Regions from separate parts of the Homo sapiens genome. Here region 2 is linked to region 1. The links come from fine-mapping of genetic effects on gene expression. A gene starts in region 1. The other region holds a variant in brackets. All regions are shown on one strand. Distances are from middle to middle.

The links.
Region 2: its variant is fine-mapped to the expression of SNED1-AS1 in amygdala (GTEx, PIP above 0.99).

What each region holds. Positions count from the first base shown.
Region 1 is chr2:241,062,319-241,065,212 of GRCh38, reverse strand. SNED1-AS1 (SNED1 antisense RNA 1) reads left to right here and starts at 1,095. Exons shown (of 3, transcript NR_187212.1): 1 at 1,095-1,133. SNED1 (sushi, nidogen and EGF like domains 1) reads right to left here. Exons shown (of 32, transcript NM_001080437.3): 17 at 2,309-2,422; 18 at 1,513-1,626; 19 at 1,088-1,201; 20 at 256-369. It also overlaps a transcript of MTERF4 not described here. RefSeq lists a silencer at 987-1,146.
Region 2 is chr2:240,210,915-240,213,808 of GRCh38, reverse strand. It overlaps LOC107985836 (a long non-coding RNA gene), which reads left to right. Exons shown (of 3, transcript XR_001739238.1): 3 at 2,190-2,407. Among named protein-coding and RNA genes, the nearest start is that of OTOS, 72 kb to the right of the region's middle. The variant G/A (reference allele first, on the strand shown) is at 1,287.

The DNA.
Region 1 (2,894 bases):
CTGGCTCTTGGGCCTGACACAGCCATCGCTGGCAGAGTCCTTCTTTGTCCCTGGCCACGTACCTCCAGGAGGGTCACACTTTTGAATGTGTGACCGTGTTTCAAGCCCACCGGGGGATTTTATCCCCTCCCTGTTCCTCAGGGAAGGGGCCTGGGCAAGCAGCGGCCAGACGCTCTGCCCTTGGAGACCGTTGGGCCCTCTAGGGAGAGGGGACCCCCTCGTGGCTCCCTCACTGGAGGCGCCCTCGCCACCCACCTTTGGCGCAGTCCTCGCCCGTGTAGCCCACTTTGCAGGTGCAGCTGTGGGAGCCGTTGCTGGCCAGGCAATAGCCACGGCCCCCACAGGGGCTGGAGAAGCAGGGGTCACTCACTGAGGGGAGAAAAAGTGGCAGTGTATGTTGGGGCGTGGCCAGGGGTCCCTGCTCCAGCCCCGCCCTTGCTCCTGGGGCACTGGGTCCCTCCTGCGTGGGTGTGGAGGGGCGGGGGGCACAGGACAGCTACTGCCTCCCTTCGGTTCTGCCACCTCCACTGCCCTGCGGGGCCCAACCCAGCAGCTCCTCCACCCTCCACAGCGGAGTGCCACCAGCCGGACTGGCTGAGGGGAGGAGACACTGGATCAGGACAGGACAGGCCACCACCCCAGTGACAGTCCTGCTTGAGGAGGGGAGGTCAGTGGTCAGGGAAGCCTCATCAGGAGGTATCCCACTGGGGGCTGATTAGGGAGAATGTTCCAGATGGAAGGACAGCCAGGGGCCAGACCTGGGTGTGCAAGAAACTTGGCCTGTCCAAGGGCAGCAGGGCCTATGTGTGGACGTGAGGCCCCACCCCTGGGTGTGTCCTCGGGTGAAGAGGGGTGTCTGGGGGGTGAGCGCAGGAGATGGGGAGGTTTAGAAGGCACCATTGTGGGACCAAGGGAGACAGGCGGAGGGCCACTGGCCTGAGAAGGGGACTTCCAAGGCGGCGGGCAGAGGGCGGGGAGCAGGCGGGCAGAGGGCGGGGAGCAGGCGGGCAGAGGGCGGGCAGCAGGCGGGCAGAGGGCGGGGAGCAGGCGGGCAGAGGGCGGGGAGCAGGCAGGCCTGCCGCCCTACCTGTCTCGCAGTGGTAGCCGAAGAAGCTCTCTGGGCAGACGCACAGGTAGGCCCCGCCGCCGCTCTCACACCGGCCTCCATGCTGGCAGGGGCTGGAGTCGCAGGCGTCCACCTCTGGAGAACACCCAGAGAGTGGGCCCAAGCTGCAAGGGGGGAGTCTGGGGGAGGGAGGAGAGGACAGCGGGAAGAAGGGAAAGGAGGAGTCTAGGGGCGGAGGCCAGGAGAGAGGGGCAGTGGGCAGGTCCCGCCCCTCAGCCCTCCCCAGCACCCTCACCTCCACCCCTCCCTCCCAAGGTGGCCGCAGCCCTGGGGGTCCCTCTCCCCAGGTGGCCTGCCCAGCAGGGAATGTGGGGATGCCCCACCTCCTCTCTGATCTTCCAGAGGCCCAGGCTCTGCATGTGGGGCCCACTGGAGGGAGCCCCTACCTGTCTCACAGTGGACTCCAACGAAGCCTGCAGGGCACCGGCAGACATAGGCCCCTGGGAGGTTCCTGCAGGACCCTCCATTTCTGCACGGGTGAGCTCGGCACTCATCCCTCTCTGCACAGAGAAGGGGTGTCAAGGGTGTTGCTGGCTCAAGTCTGAGGCGCCCACATGCCCCCAGGATTCCGTGCATTTCCTGGGGCTTCAGTTACCCCTTTCCCAGCTGGGAGCAACTACTCAGGACATGTGCTTTTTCTTCCATCAGCCCCAAACCCACCCCTCCTCGGGAGGCGTGCCACCTCCACTGCCTGCTGGCAAAGCCCCACCTCCAGGCCATGCCTTCCTCCAGGCCACTCCGCAATGGGAGGCTCCCCAGGGCCACGACTGGGCACGGCTCCCTGGGCCTTGCCCTCCCTGGAGCCTGCGTTTCTCAGGCTTAGAGCCCTAGCGAGGTACAAGAGTGTGCAGGGCTCATGGGGCAGGCCTCCCCTCCCTCCACTGGCTGGAAGCACCGACCAGGTGTCAGAGACTGTGACCTGCCCTCTCCGACGCCCACCTTCTCTGCGCCCTGAAGCCAGGCCAGCATTTCTCAGCTGGGCTCTCAGTCTCCCCTGGGGAGGTGCAGGAAGGGATATTTGTAAAATCTTTGTCTTGGATGTCAGAGCTGGCAGGGGCCCGAGAAAGCATGCAGTGGCCACCCTGGCCATCCAGACAGAGACCTGTCCGGGGGACCCAGTGCCTCAGGCACATGGCCAGTGTGCTGCAGCTGTCACCCCAGCGGGGCCAGGGCCCCTCTTACCCAGCTCACAGTGGGCGCCCTCATAGCCTGTGCTGCAGAGGCACAGGTACCCAGCAACGCGGTCCTGACAAGAGCCCCCATGCAGGCACGGCTGAGACCGGCACTCATCGATTTCTGAGAGGAGAGAGCCCAAGAATAAAGCAATGTGGCCACGATTAAGCCAAATTAAGATGCACATAAACTAGTCCTGAGGGGCCAGACAGAATTCGATGATACATCATCAGTGGTTGGAAAGGCCAGAGACCAGGGCTGGATATCCTTGGAGTCGGGGCAGGGCAGTGGGCCTGGGGCTCAGTGCCTGGCTGTGTCTGTGAAGCAGCAGGGCGGGCTTGAAACCACCCCAGGGCTCCCAGAAGACGCTGTGGGACTTAATTCCAGTGGTTCAGGCCGACAGGACAAAGGCCTCAGGGGTTTGACAGAAAATGTCTCATGTCCCATCTTGCCATTTCAATGTATAATAGTCACCTGTGAAACCAGTCCATCTGGGACAAATCTTGGTTTTAAATGATTCACCACAGCTTTCTTTTCAAGCGGGAGTTGTGCTCCTGAATTTAAATATTTATTTTTTTAAAGTTTAATTTCATGC
Region 2 (2,894 bases), 850 kb after region 1:
TCGAAACAAATCACATCAAGGTCAGAAGCAGGCAGCCCAGGTGCCCCTGCTGCAGGCAGGTCTGTGTAGCGGGTTTACCATGCCCCGGGCTCCATGGGGCCAGGTGCTGGGAAATCCAGTGGCCTGGAGAGGAGCCCCCAGGATCCCCCCGGAGAGGCTCAGAGGGGCTGGGGGGGCTTGGAGGGGCTGGGCCTGGCTGAAGAACCACCCCCAGTGGCCCCTTTACCACTCCCAGTGACCCCTTTGCTGCTCTCTGTGTCCCCCCTTCCTGGTCTTGACAGTCCCTGCATGTGTTGGGGAAACATCTGGATGCACGAACCCCAATTCCTTTTGTCCTGTAAAACCTCAGACTTCTGTCATTAAGCCACGCCAGTGACACCAGCCATTACCTCCTGTGAGGCATGCTGGCCACGTACAGCCGCCTCCCGGGACGCAAGCCAGTGCTCTCTGCTGCAGCTCCTTCACATGTTTCAAAATGAGGTCTGGTATTTCAAGGACTAAGGCTCCTTCACCCTAGGCCAGTCCCCATAGGCCTTGGCTTATGGGAGCAGAGGGCTCGGACACAGCACTAGACCCAGATCTGGAGACAGAGCTGGGAGCAGCCTCCTACTCCCTGGTGGGCAGGATCCCAGGTGCAGCTGCCTAGCAGCTGGGGACCCCAGGGGGACAGAGGCCCAACTCTCCCTCCCTTGGACACACTGGGTCCAGGAATAGCAAGACCCTCCCCTCACACAGGGACAATATTCTCACAGGCAGTTTTTTTAAATCTGTGAGCTGAAATCATGCCAGGTGATTCCAGTTGACTGGGAGTAAGGTTGGAGCGTTCTCCCTACCCCCCTCCTGTGCGGCTAAGAGGGTGCTGACCGTCTCCCCTGGGCCTGGTGACCAAGCCAGCCTTGTCCACCCTGAGCTCCGGTGCACCTGTCCGGGGGAGACAGCAGGCTACCCTACGGCCCACTGAGGGCTTGCTTTGTTCTGGGGCGAGATCCCTGAACAACTTCTTTTAATAATGGAATTGTTAAGGAAAACACACATCCATTACTCTGAGTGAAGGGAAAGACTAGAACTTCGGAGAGCAGGGGGTGTCCTGGGGGTTTCCCTGAGAAACGCTGCTTATCCGAGGTCATTCTCTCGAGGGCATGGGGCTGGGTGGGGAGGCTGCCGTGCTGGACACATTGGCCTGGAGATCCGGAATCGTCCAGGAGCCAAGGGCAGAGACCCCACGGCTTCCCTGTGGCTGCCCCTCTGGAGCTTCCAAGTGCAGGTTGTGGTGGATGGGAGCCCCC[G/A]CCTCAGGGGCGGCCCACCCCAGGAAAGGCCCAGCCTCCCTGCAGGACCAAGGGAGGTCCTGACACTGGGGCCTGAGGCTGCTGGCTGAGGCTCCAGGCCCTGGCCAGGCAGGTGTGGCTTGGAGAGTGGCTCAGTACCGAGCACAGGTGCAGTTTAACCGCCTATGATGAAGCTTCTCCTGGGCCCAGGGATGAGCAGGGAAGGGGAGGGTCATTCAAGCAGATACTCAAGAAACGGGGGCCCAGGTTTGGCTCTCGGGATGCAGCAGCTTGTTGACCCCTGACCCAAGGCACTCCAGGAGGCAGGCCAGGCTGCCTGGGGTGGCCACTTTGGGAGGGACTTACTTTTTCCCACTGTGACCCGGGGGCTATTCCTGTGGGGCCTCAGGAGGACATCCCCATCCACACCAGCCACCTCTTGTTTTCCAGAACCCCATGAGACCCTCTTGTTTTCCAGAACCTAAGGTCCCTGGAGAGCCAACTGGGCCCTGCAGAGAAGCCCCCCCGGCAGGGCACAGCCACATCCTGGGCTGGGTGCAGCCGCGCGTGACTTTCTGGAAGACTCTCCTCCCCAGCCCTGGCCTTACTGCCCTGGGGAGGGAGGTGGGCGGCTGCCTGCTGAACATACTCCACCTGTCCATTTCAGCAGGGTCAGCAGAAACGCTTCCAGGAAAATCAACCCAGCCATCTCTGCCACACTCTGGAACCTAGGGCATAGGGCCGTCAGCCTATCCGGAGGTGCAAGTACAGCTGTCAGCCTGTCTGGAGGTGCACGTCACCCCTGGGCAGCTTGCGGGGGGACAACTTGCTCAGAGCTGGGGCCAGGTGCCCTGCTTGCTGCCCCTTCTCGTGTCCTGACAGCCGGGCACAGGCACCAGCTCCTCCCCTTTCTCCTCTCCCCAGGGCTTTGCCTGGTCCTGAGTCAGGAAAGAAGGTGAAAAACAGGCAGTGGGGAAGACCACTGCAGAGGCGAGACCCACACCACACCCCCTGCTGGAGTTTTAAGGACAGAGTCCCCTGCATTCTTGGGCCCACAGGACCATGGTCTCACCCCTCTCTGCATCTCTTTGGAACCCTTCGTCTCTCATCTTCAGAACAGTCACTGCTTTGTAGTGGGGCCTGAACTCTTTGGTGGAGAACCAGGACGAGGGCACCTCTGTGGCCTGGGTACCACGCCTGACTGTGCCCTCCTCCCCTGTGGCCAGTGACCCTCACTGCGTAGTAGTGGAGCCGTCCTTGAACCTGGGAGGAAAGGCCAACTCAGTGTTCCAGGAGTCGCTGGCCCCTTGCTCCAGCCAACCACCCCACACCCCCACTCATTGCAAACGTATGGGAGGGGCTGCTGCTATTGGCCCCACCTGTGCCAAGGAGAAAAAGCAGAATGACACTTCACACAAAGTTTCGAGAAGTCATGCCAAGGTCAATGCAAGGATATGGAGAAGAAAATACTGGCTAAGACTGGAAATTCAAGGGGGGACCCCTCTGTCCATGAAATGCAGATTCCTGCAAGGGGTGGGGCCACACACTGCATTCAGCAAGGGTTTCCAATCTCCACCCAGGGACGCTGTGTAGACTGAACATCAGGCACGTGCATAAACCTTCCTTTTC